2 linked regions of the Homo sapiens genome follow. The protein of the gene in region 1 interacts with the protein of each later gene in a biochemical or structural test. Each region holds a gene or a part of one and is shown on either strand. Other genes may lie near its edges.

What was found.
Region 2: the proteins of ENO1 (region 1) and MYOC interact in far-western blotting, tested with the Homo sapiens proteins (one study listed by BioGRID).

What each region holds. Positions count from the first base shown.
Region 1 is NC_000001.11:8,877,001-8,880,752, reverse strand, and holds the start of ENO1 (alpha-enolase), read left to right. Parts: upstream 1-2,066; 5' UTR 2,067-2,173; intron 2,174-3,752. UniProt on the Homo sapiens protein: Glycolytic enzyme the catalyzes the conversion of 2-phosphoglycerate to phosphoenolpyruvate. In addition to glycolysis, involved in various processes such as growth control, hypoxia tolerance and allergic responses.
Region 2 is NC_000001.11:171,645,963-171,649,714, reverse strand, and holds part of MYOC (myocilin precursor), read left to right. Parts: intron 1-3,752. UniProt on the Homo sapiens protein: Secreted glycoprotein regulating the activation of different signaling pathways in adjacent cells to control different processes including cell adhesion, cell-matrix adhesion, cytoskeleton organization and cell migration.

The DNA of each region.
Region 1 (3,752 bases):
CATGCATGTGTTACCTACAGTGCTTCAAGGTGTGGTATTCTGATAGCTTTGGACAGTTATTCCCCACCTGCCCACCACCAATAAAACTTCTCAACAAGCTTACAGCAAGTGAGAAATAATAACTAAATGCAATGCCGTTGTGCTGACTACAAGCAAATGTGAACCCCACAGCCTGCTAACAAAGCCTAAGGAGCTATGGAAACAGGGAGGGCATTTGGCAGCCTGTGAATTTTGAAAAAGATTTCAGGACATCTCTAGTAATCATTAACATTTTAGCTACAATGTGAGGTCGAAGTGCTGGCTCAGAATGTGGCGCTGCAGCCTCCAAGAATCTTGCAACGGCAGCAGTCCGGGATCATGTTCGGCCTCTGATTTCCTGCTAGATTTACTGGTTCTGGCCACAGCAGAGTATCTTTATCTCTCTAACCATTTTTATGTAAAATAAGATTGTTTGGAGCCCTTTCAGGGCCACGCCTTAGAATTGCTCTGAGAGTACCAAGTGCCTGATTTCTTAGAGTCCTTACCAGTAGGAGATGTTGGCTGTTGATTTAGCTGCTGAGTCATGGGGCTGGGGATAGTGGTTTTCAGTAGCCAAAAACGTTAGTGTGTTGCTGGTGAAATCACAAACTCTGCTTGCAAAATTTTACTCTTTTTTTTTTTCTTTTTGCTGAATTTAATCCTAAAGTTCTTGCTTCTTACTCACTGGAAAGCAAATACTATGGTCTCAATAGGCCTTAATTTTTAACCAACGCCATGGAAACCTGTCTGTAGCTAAGAGGATAAAAATGCTAGGGGTTAAGGAAGAAAAGCAGGTTTTGCAGCTGACCAGAAGAAATAATTAAATTCAAGTACATATTTGAACACCTCTTTACAAGGAAATGAGGAAAATCAGATGTTTTAGTTCTCTTACAGACCAGCAGTAATGTTGAAAAATATAAAAGTAGCCGTAACAGAAAACGAAGTGATCATCTCAGCCCTCCCTTGGAGTGGGGGGATATATTGCGGAGCTGAGTTTTAATGGCTATCAGTTCTTGATCAGAAAAGTGAAATCACTCCAACTCCTTCCGTATTCCACGGAATATGACCCGTCTTGAACTTTGAGAAATTCCCCGGGTCTGTGTGAAATTCCAGTTCCAAATAATTCACATGAATGGTTCACAAGAATCCAGGTAGGTTTGATCTAGTTCCCTAGATGGGAATGAGAGGGATGTAAAATTTGAGAGGCAACATGACATGGACTAGAGAGAGAATGAATTAACACTGGGGAAGCACGTGGGGGCGCGCCGGACACCTAGAAGGCACTCAAAAAGTATGAGGTAGAATTAAAGGAAAGTGAACCTTCCTTTGGCTGTCTCGGCCTGATTCTCACCGCAGCAAGGAGAAAGGGACAGGGTCACCTTGGCGGGTGCCAGGCGGAGCCCGGCCAGACGGGCGCGGCTGGAGGGCAGCGCGCAGGCGCAGGCGGCGCACGTGGCCCCGGACACGCAGCGCTGCGGCGGGGCCAGCGCCCCAACCCCGGAGTGGGGCCGAGGCGCGCAGCCTCTCAACGACTCGACGCCAACGGGGTCTCTCGGATCGCGGCGCGAGGCAGGAGGGGCGGGGCAGGAGGGCCGCGGCAGGCCCGGGCCGCCAAAGTTGTCAGCAAGGTCGAGGGCCGGACGTGGGGCCCCAGAGCGACGCTGAGTGCGTGCGGGACTCGGAGTACGTGACGGAGCCCCGAGCTCTCATGCCCGCCACGCCGCCCCGGGCCATCCCCCGGAGCCCCGGCTCCGCACACCCCAGTTCGGCTCACCGGTCCTATCTGGGGCCAGAGTTTCGCCCGCACCACTACAGGGCCGCTGGGGAGTCGGGGCCCCCCAGATCTGCCCGCCTCAAGTCCGCGGGACGTCACCCCCCTTTCCACGCTACTGCAGCCGTCGCAGTCCCACCCCTTTCCGGGAGGTGAGGGAATGAGTGACGGCTCTCCCGACGAATGGCGAGGCGGAGCTGAGGGGGCGTGCCCCGGAGGCGGGAAGTGGGTGGGGCTCGCCTTAGCTAGGCAGGAAGTCGGCGCGGGCGGCGCGGACAGTATCTGTGGGTACCCGGAGCACGGAGATCTCGCCGGCTTTACGTTCACCTCGGTGTCTGCAGCACCCTCCGCTTCCTCTCCTAGGCGACGAGACCCAGTGGCTAGGTAATGATTGGGGAAGGGCTGAGCAACGGGCAGGCGGCGCAGGGCTTTTCTGGGCTTGTGGGGCTCTTTTCCCTCCGAGGGAGGCGGCGCGCCCGCAGGCCCAGCGTGGCGGGGTCGGGGGCACGTGCAAGCCGCCTCCCTGGGTGGGAACTGGCGCCCCCGCTCACCCCGAGGCCCGGGGCGGGGGCGCAATGCCAGGCGCACGTGCTGGGCCCCCGATTTCTTTGGAGGGGAAAGTGCAGATCAACACGTGATTACCGACTGCGGGGCCGAGTCACTGTCAGGGAAGGTCGGGAGCTGCACACGCGAGCTGCTTAGCACAGCGGGAGTTGGGAGTGGAAGTTGCTTTTCCATCGTAGCCAAGTGTAAGGTTTTTGGGATAGACGCAGACTTAGCGGCGGTGGCCACTCAGGCCAGGCCCTTCCTAAAATGGAGGAGGGCGGCGATAGTGGAGATGGCCACGAGGCTGCGGCCCCCTCCCCCACCGGTAGCCCCCGCCTCTCGCCCGCGCTCGCGGCCCGCGCTTCTGCCTAGTAAGCGGTGACTCATTTAACTCCGAGAAGGCACCTCTTGAGGAACCTACAGCAGAGCCGTTAGATCATTGGCAAGTCCTCCAGGCGACCTCGCCCAAGTTGGGCAAGAGCGGCTCCCCGGCTGGCCACCAAAAATCGGGCCTGATCTGATTTGGTTTTTTTTTTTTTTTGAGTTTTGCTATTGTTGCCCAGGCTGGAGTGCAATTGCGCGATCTCGGATCTCGGTTCACCGCAACCTCGGCCTCCTGGGTTCAAGCGATTCTCCTACCTCAGCCTCCCGAGTAGCTGGGATTACAGGCATGCGCCACCACGCCCGGCTAATTTTGTTTTTTTTTTGTTGTTGTTGTTGTTTTAGTAGAGGCGGTGTTTCACCATGTTGGCCAGGCTGGTCTTGAGCTCCCGACCTCAGGTGATCCGCCCGCCTCGGCCTCCCAAAGTGCTGGGATTACAGGCGTGAGCCACCGCGCTAGGCCAAGAAGGATGTATTTTAAGAAAGCTTCCTGTTCAATGTTCCCCTGCTCTGTGCGCTTCTCTGGGCGGTAGGGTCCATTGCTTCACTTGCCTTTCAGGCCCACCCGGGCCCTGACTGCTCCATTCATTTACCGTGTCCCTAATTCGGGGTTCCATCCAGGCAGCTAAAAAAGCTGTGAATGGTCCGGGCGCGGTGGCTCACGCCTGTAATCCGAGCACTTTGGGATGCCGAGGTGGGCCTCCTCAGGATCACCTGAGGTCGGGAGTTAGAGACCAGCCTGACCAACGTGGTGAAACCCCGTCTCTACTGAAAATACAAAAATCGACCAGGCGCGGTGGCTCACGCCTGTAATCCTAGCACTTTGGGAGGCCGAGGTGGGTGGCTCACGAGGTCAGGAGATCGAGACCATCCTACTCTACTAAACCCCATCTCTACTAAAAATACAAAAAATTAGCCGGGTGTGGTGGTGGGCGCCTGTAGTCCCAGCTACTCTGGAGGCGGAGCCTGCAGTGAGTCGAGATCGTGTCACTGCACTCTAGCCTGGGCGAAAGAGCGCGACTCCGTCTCAAAAAAA
Region 2 (3,752 bases), about 160 Mb from region 1:
CAAGCAATTCTCCTACCTCAGCCTCCTGAGTAGCTGGGATTATAGGCATGTGCCACCATGCCCGGCTAATTTTGTATTTTTAGTAGAGACAGGGTTTCACCATGTTGGTCAGGCTAGTCTCGAACTCCTGACCTCAGGTGATCTGCCGACCTCGGCCTTCCAAAGCACTGGGATTACAGGTGTGAGCCCTCCCTGTACATGGCCATGAGGTTCATTGACTTTCAAGACCTTCAGCTGACCTCTGGTTTATAGACCCTAAAGGTAAAAGACAGAAAGGTACAGGAATGCTTGGAACAAAAGATCTGTTTCAAGGCCAGATCTAGGGAAAAGGGGGCATTCTGGAGGCTGGAATATAAGTCTAGGTATGCTTTTTTGCAGGAGTGGCAAGAACTAGGTGTGAAGGTTTGGGTAGAGAAGCTTAGTGAGGCTGAGTGGACAAAGGTAAGGCCTGAGAAGGCAGCCTTTCTGTATTCCACCTGCAACTCAAATTGTTACCACCACTTTCTTGATCATGTATTAATAGTTGTTATGTAGAAAAAAATTCCTTATAATCATAGAAATCACTTGTTTATACATACACATAATATGACATATTTTACTACATAACTATTACTACAAAGTTATATATAACTTTTTCTTCTCTGGGCTTATATAAATTTTCATATATATACATATATAAATTTTATGTATATATAATAGTTTTTGAAAAGTAGAAAAAAAATACAATTAGCCAAGTGTGGTGGCTCACACCTGTAACCTTAGCACTTTGGGAGGCCGAGGTGGACAGATCACTTGAGGTCAGGAGTTTAAGACCAGCCTGGCCACTGTGGTGAAAACTTGTCTCTACTAAAAATACAAAAATTAGCCGGGTGTGGTGGCGGGCACCTGTAATCCAGTTACTCCAGAGGCTGAGGCAGGAGAATCGCTTGAACCTGGGAGGCAGACGTTGCAGTGAGCCAAGATCACGCTACTGCACTCCAGCCTGGGTGACAGAGCGAGACTCCATCTCAAAAAAATATATATATTACATATAATACATATAAATATATATAATTATATATATAAATTTATTATATATATAATAAAATACATATATAATTTACTAGAAGATAAATTAGAGTTGGTTATTACTGTCACAAGAGAAGGACTGCTTTGTTTGTTATTTAGCCCCTGCTTTGGACTGGTCTCCTGTTGAACAGAGCCTGGAAGAGGGCTTGTGTGCAGTTGGTTTATATGGACCATGATCCTAGAGAAGAGAAGTTGAGACAGGGGAAAGTGAGACAGGGAAGGCAGGAAAGCCACAAAATGGGGGCCTTCTCCAGCTAGTCACCACAGTGGGCAATGGAGGCTCAATCCCATCAAGCCCTTCAGAGGGGCTGTGTAGACTGCAACAGAAGAGGGGAGGTTTACGCATGGATCTGATACCCTCTTGGCCAAGGGCTATCCCATGGAGTATATTGCGCTTCCCTGATACTCAGATGTGGGGACGAGGTTTGTTCTTGCAGACTGATTTTTTTTTTTTTTTTAAGATGGAGTCTTTCTCTGTCCCCCAGGCTGGAGTGCGGTGGCACGATCTTGGCTCACTGCAACCTCCGCCTCCTGGGTTCAAGCAATTCTCCTGCCTCAGCCTCCCGAGTAGCTGGGATTACAGGTGCACACTACCACGCCCAGCTAACTTTTGTATTTTTTTTTTTTTCCAGTACAGACAGGGTTTCACCATGTTGGCCAGGCTGGTCTTGAACTCCTGACCTCAAGTATCCACCCATCTTGACCTCCCAAAGTGCTGGGATTACAGGCATGAGCCACGGCGCCTGGCCTGTTCTTGTAGACTTTCTATGCAGAAAGTCAGAGAAGCTGGGCCACGGTGGCTGAGGCGAGGTCCCCGCAGGTGATAACTGCAAGAGGCAGGTTGCCTCAGCAATGACTGCAAAAAAGTGGGCAGGATGTGAGGGGAGGGTGAGGGGAGAAACCTGAGGTGTTCAACACAAGTGCTGCAGATTCCCTTTCCTCACCTAGAATAGGATGGGGATGAGAATCCCTCATGGGAGTCATCATGCAAATTAGCAGTCACACAGGGAAGCACCCAGTGCAGCGCTGAGCAGTGGCCACCCAGTGAATAAAATATAACTAGAAAGGCTTATTTTACTTGAGTTCCACTATTGTTTTTGTTTTTTGTTTTGTTTTGTTTTTTGAAGATGGAGTCTCGCTCTATCACCAGGCTGGAGTGCAGTGGCGTGGTCTTGGCTCACTGCAACCTCCACCTCCTGGATTCAAGCAATTCTCCTGCCTCAGCCTCCCAAGTAGCTGGGATTACAGGCACACGCCACCATGCCCGGCTAATTTTTGTATTTTTAGTGGAGATGGGGTTTCACCATGTTGGCCAGGCTGGTCTTGAACTCCCGACCTCGTGATCCACCCGCCTCAGCCTCCCAAAGTGCTGGGATTACAGGCATGAGCCACTGCACCTGGCCAGGGTTCCACTATTGTTTTAAAGCATCATTCAATAATCAATATGTCAACATGTGCATAACATTTTAATAACATGCGTTGATTCTAGAGACAGTACAAGTTAGAGCAGTACTCAGGACAATAGTCTATTAGCTAGTCTTCACTTTCCTAAGATGTTTCTGACAACCTGTAGATAATTAGGCATAGCTTGTTTTACTTCATTCCTTTCATTTATGTAATATGGACTGAACTTTCCAGTGATAGAAAATATCTATGAAAATTATTACAATGCCTATGTCTACAGGCAAACGAGTTAATAAATTCAGTTTCCGGGTTGAGGTCTCTAAAATGCCAAGTCTATAAAGAAGCGACGGCAGAGAACACAGAACATTTCCAGAATTTTGTAATAGACATGAACCTTTAAACCACAGAAGGACTGAATTTAACATTTTAAAAAACCTAGAAAAAAAACAGCTGGGCGTGGTGGCTCACGCCTGTAATCCCAGCACTTTGGGAGGCTGAGGCAGGCGGATCACGAGGTCAGGAGTTCGTGACCAGCCTGGCCAATATGGTAAAACCCTGTCTCTACTAAAAATACAAAAATTAGCCAGGCGTGGTGGCAGGCACCTGTAGTCCCAGCTACTCAGGAGGCTGAGGCAGAAGAATCACTTGAACCCAGGAGGCAGAGGTTGCAATGAGCTGAGATCATGCCACTGTACTCCAGCCTGGGTGACAGAGCGAGACCCTGTCTCAAAAAAAAAAAAACAAAAAAAAAAACCTTAAAAAATAAAAGCCCCAAAAATGCTAACTATCTGACACAGTACAGCCCTTAATATTTTCACAGTCTCTTTTTGGTTTTCCTCCACATTCACAATGAAATGTTAGTGATTTTAAAACATTCCAGAGAAATTTTAGTGTTGACACATCTTTATTGAGGGCCATTTCATTTATAGTTACTTATGTAATCATCCAAACAATTCAGCTCAGCATACTGGGGCTCAGAGAGGTGGAGTCATTTACCCAAAGTCACACAGCTGGGACATGGCAGAGCTGAACTAGGAGCTATGACTTCCGGCTTAGGTCCAGGCCCCTTTACGAGATTGTTTCCCTGCCTTTGGGTTTTGCATCCTCTATTCTGGGCTTCCACCCGCATGCCAGATGGCTCTATTCCTGGAGTCTGACCATTGCCAGATGCTCCTGGCTGACATGACCTAGAAGAAGCCAGCAGGCTCATAACTTAACCATCGCCCCTGCCAAATGGGAACTGGCCTTGCCGTCATCCTGGAAGCCATTCCCTGACATTT